Homo sapiens: one gene and its partner. The protein of the gene in region 1 purifies or fractionates together with the protein of each later gene. This does not show direct contact. Each region holds a gene or a part of one and is shown in the gene's direction. Other genes may lie near its edges.

Region 1 (3,654 bases):
CCCAAGTCCAGAACTCTTATTATGTTACATAGACATAGATTCTTGGATTAGACATGATCCCAGATCATCTACTCAAGCCTCACCCACTCTGTCTTTTCAAATCCCTGCTGGGACTTTTTTTTTGAGATGCGGTCTTGCTGTGTTACCCAGGCTGGAGTGCAGTGGCATGGTCTGGGCTCACTGCAACCTCCGCCTCCCGGGTAGGTGGGACTACAGGTGCGTGCCACCATGCCCGGCTAATTTTGTATTTTTAGTAGAGACGGGGTTTCACTGTGTTGACCAGGCTGGTCTCAATCTCCTGACCTCGTGATCCGCCCATCTCGGCCTTCCAAAGTGCTGGGATTATAGGCATGAGCCCGGCCGGGACTTCTTAATACCCCCAGTGACAGCATGCGCAGAGCATCACTGTTTTGAAATTTTAGAATATTTATTAAGCTTAAACCTATTTTCCCACAACTTTTACCTGTGGGTGTTAGTCTTGTTTTCTGGAGGTTGTGTATCGCCTGTCTTCCTCATTAAACAGCTTACTTTCTTTTTAACTGTTCCTTTCCACATGCGAACTTCTGGTGTGTCCCAGGCCCTCTCATTGAACCTAGAACTGAGCGTCATACACTATTTTAATTGTCTTAGTGTGGGGTCTGTAAGTGAATTCCAAGAGAATTTGGATTCTCTAGGTCTGCTAGTGCAGGCCAGGATTTCACCAGCTTTTTAGGTGGTTTAAGAATTAGAACTTGTCATGGAGTGTATGACTTCCAAACTCCGGTAGCTTTCTAAATTATTACAAGATTTGATGAATGAATTTAAATGTGAATGTATTTATTTTTGAATGTCATTGTGGATATACATGGTAATTTAGGAAACTTGAAACAAGAAGTGACCAGGATACGTCAGTGATGGGGTCATATAATGGGAGACCCGGGAGGTGTGACAGAAGGAAGTAGTTTCTTTTTTTTTCTTTTTTTTTTTTTTTTTGAGATGGAATCTCGCTCTGTTGCCCAGGCTGGAGTGCAGTGGCATGATCTTGGCTCACTGCAACCTCTGCCTCCCGGGTTCAAGCTATTCTCCTGCCTCAGCCTCCTGAGTAGCTGGGATTACAGGCATGCGCCACCACACCGGGCTAATTTTTCTTTTGTATTTTTAATAGAGATGGGGTTTCACCATGTTGGTCAGGGTGGTCTCAAGCTCCTGACCTTGTGATCCGCCTGCCTTGGCCTCCCAAAGTGCTAGGATTACAGATGTGAGCCACCACGTCCGGGCTGGAAGTAGTTTCATGTCTGATCCCAGCTCTGCAGCTAGCTTTTGGACTGTGGACAAATCCTTTCACCTGTCAGGTCAGCTTTCTTATCCATAAAATGAGAGGATTGGATACATCAGAATCACCTGAAACTTGTACACATATCTAGTCCTAAACACTGAGATTTCTGATTCATTCATTTCCAATTCATTCTGATTGATTAGGTCAAGAAAGGCCATTCAGACAATAGCATTTTAAAAGATAAAGGCATCCCAGTTTGGTATTCATCGGCCCCTGTGAGAAACATTTGTTAGGAATGTGTCAGAGTTCTCCTTCTCCGGACTGAGTTTACTGAAGTTACGTTTTTGTCCTCAGATTACTTCTTTCCTATCCCTCCTTTAGTGTGACTTTGGAAAATCTCCTTGAAGGTCTTTGAGTCCCATTTCCTTCATGTATAAAACTTCTCCAAGTTATTAAGAGGGTGAAATGACAGAATGTATATAAAGGCAAACTTCCTGCTGCATTGCAGGCCTGCAATCACTGATGATTTTTCTCCCTTCTCTTTTCTACGCTGTAGCTTTTTATCTTTCCAGTTGTTAGATGCCTAATCTTCCCTGTTCACTTGCTCCTCCTTCCTGCAACACTCTTGTGTATATTTCCTTGATCATTGCTATCATCTTTCTCATTTTTATATGGTATCTGTAGAGAACACAGAACTCTGAATTCTTTGCTTGGGCCTCCTGGGGCTTTTCTGGTAGTGTCATTTCCCTTTCTGTGCAGTAGGATTGATGGGCATGCCTAAAAGACTTGGGATAAGCAATCCTCCCTTTTCTTCCCTAGACATCTCCAGTTACAGCCCGAACACTGGAAACTCTGATTCGACTGGCCACAGCCCATGCGAAGGCCCGCATGAGCAAGACTGTGGACCTGCAGGATGCAGAGGAAGCTGTGGAGTTGGTCCAGTATGCTTACTTTAAGAAGGTGAGGATTCAGATGCCTGGGCATGAGAGGATCTCCTGGATATATTACAGATGCATGGGCTTCCCAGCCTTCCGTGGCTGACGGCTACATTTGGATTGTCAACAGAAAGCAGTATTTGTCTTCCAGTCATCAGTCTGCCTCACTCTTTCCTCTGAAACACTCAGTGATTCTCAACCCTGACTGCACCAGAGAATCAGATGGAAAGCTTTAAAATGCTGATTCCAGGGCTCCTAGAGATTCTGGTTTAGTTGATGTGCTGTACTTTCAGTTAGCTGCTTCTCTGTCTACCCCTACTTCCTTTGCATCTTAAAAAAAAAAGTAGGTGTTTTCAAAAGAGCTACCTTGGTAATCTTCCTTGTCCCACTCTACCTTTCCTCTTGGTAGTCTCTTCAAATGTCCCATTGGCACCTCAGAAGCTCATGTTTAAAGTTGAACTCTCAAACTTGCCACTCATCCTGTTTCCCTATTTCTGTTTGTGACATTGCACCTCTGTCATTTTAGATATCAAGCCTCAAAGCCTAGACTCCCTTTTCCTAGTTGCCCACTCCCACCCCAGTCTGGTGAATGTTAGCCTTTTGGGGTTGAGTTGTGAGTCTAATAAACTCTTCCTTGCTTTTTGCTAGGTTAAGGGTTGAGTTGTGAGTCTGATAAACTCGTCCTCACTTTTTGCTAGGTTAAGGGTTGAGTTGTAAGTCTGATAAACTCTTCCTCGCTTTTTGCTAGGTTAAGGGTTGAGTTGTGAGTCTGATAAACTCTTCCTCGCTTTTTGCTAGGTTAAGGGTTGTCTTGGATTTCAATTAGACACCTGATTTATAAGGAAATGGATTGTTTTCACTTAACCATTATGGGCTAGACATTTGTTTCTTTATTCAGTAAACATTTATTGAGTACCTACTATATAAACAGCATTTAACATACTTCCCAGCATTTTGAAAAGATGGGTAGCAGTCTCTACTTCTGCCCCTGGTCCTGGGACTTAGGGACAAGAGGAGCTAGGTAAACCATTGGAAACATGGAAGTCTTTCCTGCTTATGATGCAGAAGGGACTGGGAGTTCTTGATGCAGTTCCCCTGCATCAGTGACCCCTCTAGCCCAGCCACACTTGCCTTGGTCTTAGGTTCTGGAGAAGGAGAAGAAACGTAAGAAGCGAAGTGAGGATGAATCAGAGACAGAAGATGAAGAGGAGAAAAGCCAAGAGGACCAGGAGCAGAAGAGGAAGAGGTAAGGTGGGGCAAGCAAATGAGATTAAAAAGTTAGTGGCCAAGAAGTTGGGGGTGCACGCCTGTAATCTTAGCAATTTGGGAGGCCGAGGCGGGTGGGTCACTTGAGTCCAGGAGTTTGAGACCAGCCTGGGAAATATGGCAAAACTGTCTCTACAAAAAATAGAAAAATTAGCTGGGCGTGGTGGCGGACACTTGTGGTCCCAGCTGCTCGGTAGG
Region 2 (3,654 bases), about 17 Mb from region 1:
AATTGCACAGTGAATTTGAAAGTCAAGATGTCCCAGTCATGGACATAATGCTGCGATAGGTTACTTTTTGGAATGGAGAAAACATCTTAGAGATTGAGTCTGCATCAGAATATATTCTGAATGAGCATGGAATGTTCTTTACCCATGTTAGATATTAATTAATTAAGTTTTTCCATGTTTAACTTTTTTAAAAAAGCAAGACAATAAAAACAGTCTTGTAATCTGAACACATATTTTGGGTTTTGTTGCTAGCATAAAAATTATTACCTAGTGGATGGTAACACTGTTTTGAAATTCTAGCTTGGAGGAGATGTTTGTTACAAGAGAAAAGGTGTTTCATTGAAACCTAACAGGGTAATTTACATGGAGAGATACTTGTTTCTCTTTTGAGTTATTGTTAGGTTAAGACATAAACTTAGAAAAATTGAGATGCTCATCTTTCCCATCTTAGATTTACTTTCACTATGAACTTTATAAATTCTTTTTTTTGAGACAGTCTCACTCTATCGCCCAGACTGGAGTGCAGTGGCGTGATCAGAATTATTCAAGCTTATGTATGTGTGTGTATTACACATATATTACACATATGTATAAATATCAAATATCTTTTTTACATTATATATAATGGTATATATGGTTGCTATATGTTTTATGTGTGTATAGCAGTATCTATCTATACTGCCTTATTTCCCAGGCATATTTATATGCGAAACTTTTTTTCTGTGAAATCTTATTGTACCAAGAGGAATAAGTATATATGCCCACAAAAAGACTGGGTCATAGCAGCTTTTTTCACAGTAGGAATAAACTACTGATTCACATAGCAACATAGATGAATCTCAGAAATACTGTTCATAGCAAGAGAAGCCAGGCACAGATGAGTATGTATAAGTGTTTATGATGCCATTTATGAAAAATACAAGAACAGGCAAAACTAAGGTATGGTGATAGAAATCAGGACAGTGGTTGCCTCTGGGTAGGGGTTGTGGTTGACTGGAAAGGAGCACAAGGAAACTTTCTGGCATGATGGAAATATTCTGTAGCTTGACTTGGGTGATGGTAATTCAGTTATATACTTTTTGGGTAACTTCGTTTTCATGTAATTTTTAACTTACAGAAAAGTTGCAAGACTAGTACAAAGAGCTTCCGTATACCTTTATCCAGTTTTGCCAATTGTTATATACATTTACTCAAACATATTGATTCAAACTTAAGATTTTATAGTATGTAAATTTTACTTTAATAAAGGAAAGAAAGCTAAAAAAAGTGTTGAAAATGAGGATGATCTTGTTATCTAAAAAACATGAAATACCTCAGTTAGGAATTAACCAGTGGTTTAATAATGATGAGAAAAAGAATCGTTGGCTGTCTTTTGTCTTCATGTATATGTATTTATACTGCTTTTCACTAAAGACTCATGACATGTTTCTGTTAGAAGAAACAGGATCCTCAAAACGATTCAAGGTAGAACTGCCTACAAGGCAAACCTGCTTTATTTTGTTATCCTACACATGTCACCTAGGGAATGTGACTGAAACCTAGCAATAGCTTTCTGGGAATTGGAAGTTGTGACTGTTTCTGTTAAAAGAGTTGTATACCTACAATGTGCTAGCTGTTGCAAAGACATGAACAGTTTTTACTATCCTAGAACTTAGCCAAAGAAGAGGAGGCATACAAATCTGGTTGTTGTTTTTGGGTGGTGCTATTTTTCATAGGCAGGAAAGACATTGGTGTTTGTAAACTAAACTATTCTTGATCATTGGTAAGTGGTAAATCTGTCACTGTCTACTAGATTTAATGTTTCCACAGCCTCAATAGTGTGATTTGATTTAGATTAAATCAATTTAAATCATAGCTTAAACAATAATGGCTAAAAAAATTCAACTTTCCAATTCTACTACTTATTTTATGTAATTTTTAGTATGTGTTCATTACAATTTAGTATTAGGCATAATTAATGGATATTGGTTCTTTTTGTTTTTTCTTTTGAAACAGGGTCTAATTCTGTTGCCCAGTCTGGAGTGCAGTAGTGCGATCATAGCTCACTGCAGCCTGGAACTCCTGGGCTCAAATGATTCTCCTGCCTCAGTTTCCTGAGTGGCTGGGACTATAGGCGTGCACCACCATGTCTGGCTAATTAAAGAAAAATTGTAGAGACAGAGTCTTGCTGTGTTGCTCAGGCTGGTCTTGAACTCCTGGCCTCAAGTGATCCTCCCACCTTGGCCTCCCAAAGTGTTAGGACTGCAGGTATAAGCCACTGTGCCTGGCCTGGTTCATTTTTTTAAATCTTTTTTTTTTTTCCATCTACATCAGAAAGTTGTTTTATTTGGTCATATAGTCGAGTAGAAGATGTTTGAAGTAACTGGAGGGCTAACCAGATGCTTCAACAAATTAATCATTGATATTCAACATAAACATTTATTTTGCCTTTACTCATGAAAATAATAAAGTTATATGACCTATATATTTTTATTTATAAGTTTTTAAATTTAATATATTTTTATTTCAATAGCTTTGGAGTACAAGTGGTTTTTGGTTACATGGATGAATTATATCATGGTGAATTCTGAGATTTTAGTGCATCTGTTACCTGAGTAATACACATTTTACCCAATATGTAGTTTTTTATTCCTTTCCCCTGCCCTCTTCTGAGTCTCTAGAATCCATTATATCACTCTGTATGCCTTTGTGTACTCATAGTTTATCTCCCACTTATAGGTGAGAACATGCAGTATTTGGTTTTCCATTCCTGAGTTAGTTCACTTAGAATAATGTATCCAGCTTTATCAAAGTTGTTGTAAAAGACATTATTTCATTCCTTTTTTATGGCTGAGTAGTATTCCGTTGTGTGTGTATGCCATGTTTTCTTTACTCATTTAACTTATATATTTTTCAACAAAAACATAATTCTTTGAAGAATGACAGATGTCTGATATCAATCAACATGGATAAAAGGACTAACTTCTTCCATGTAATAAACATGTTCATATTTCTCTGAAATGACAGAATAGGCCTTTTCCCCTTTTATGGTCCATTTCACTATGGTGTTTAATTGATCAGTCGAGAATGAAGAAAACATTCTTTGAAAAGTATCTGCCAGAATTTTGTTTAGAATGGTCAGCCTTAACTGAAGATAGGATTTAAAAAGTATACCTGTAAGTAGACCTTTTTAGACTTTTTATTATGAAAGTTGCATACATACACAGAATCGTAGAGAATTGTCTAATGAAGTTCCATATACCTCCTCTCCAGATTCTTTAATGAACCTCCATGTACCCATTCCCCAGATTCATTAATTACTGACATTTTGGTTATTTGTATTTCATATATTTTTTTGAGACAGGGTCCTACTTGTTGCTCAGGTTGAAATGCAGTGGTGAAATCACAGCATGCTGCAGCCTTGACCTCCTAAGTACAAACAGTCCTCCCACCTCAGCCTCCACAGTAGCTGGGATTACAGGTATGCATCACCATGACCAGCTAATTTTTAAGTTTTTTTGTAGAGCCACAGTCTCACTATGTTGCTCAAGCTGGTCTTAAAATCCTGGGCTCAAGCTGTCTTCTTGCCTTGGCCTCCCAGAGTGTTAGGATTACAGGCATGAGCCACTGTGTCCAGCCATGTGCTTTTTTAAACTGTTAAATTCTCACAGAGAT

What was found. Proteins that work in one complex are often made in the same cells at the same time.
Region 2: the proteins of MCM3 (region 1) and FKBP5 purify together in Homo sapiens (affinity purification with mass spectrometry; 2 studies listed by BioGRID and IntAct, with this or other methods). This does not show direct contact.

What each region holds. Positions count from the first base shown.
Region 1 is NC_000006.12:52,267,647-52,271,300, reverse strand, and holds part of MCM3 (DNA replication licensing factor MCM3), read left to right. Parts: intron 1-2,074; coding exon 2,075-2,215; intron 2,216-3,294; exon of another isoform or gene 3,295-3,332; coding exon 3,333-3,436; intron 3,437-3,654. UniProt on the Homo sapiens protein: Acts as a component of the MCM2-7 complex (MCM complex) which is the replicative helicase essential for 'once per cell cycle' DNA replication initiation and elongation in eukaryotic cells.
Region 2 is NC_000006.12:35,678,764-35,682,417, reverse strand, and holds part of FKBP5 (peptidyl-prolyl cis-trans isomerase FKBP5), read left to right. Parts: intron 1-3,654. UniProt on the Homo sapiens protein: Immunophilin protein with PPIase and co-chaperone activities. Component of unligated steroid receptors heterocomplexes through interaction with heat-shock protein 90 (HSP90).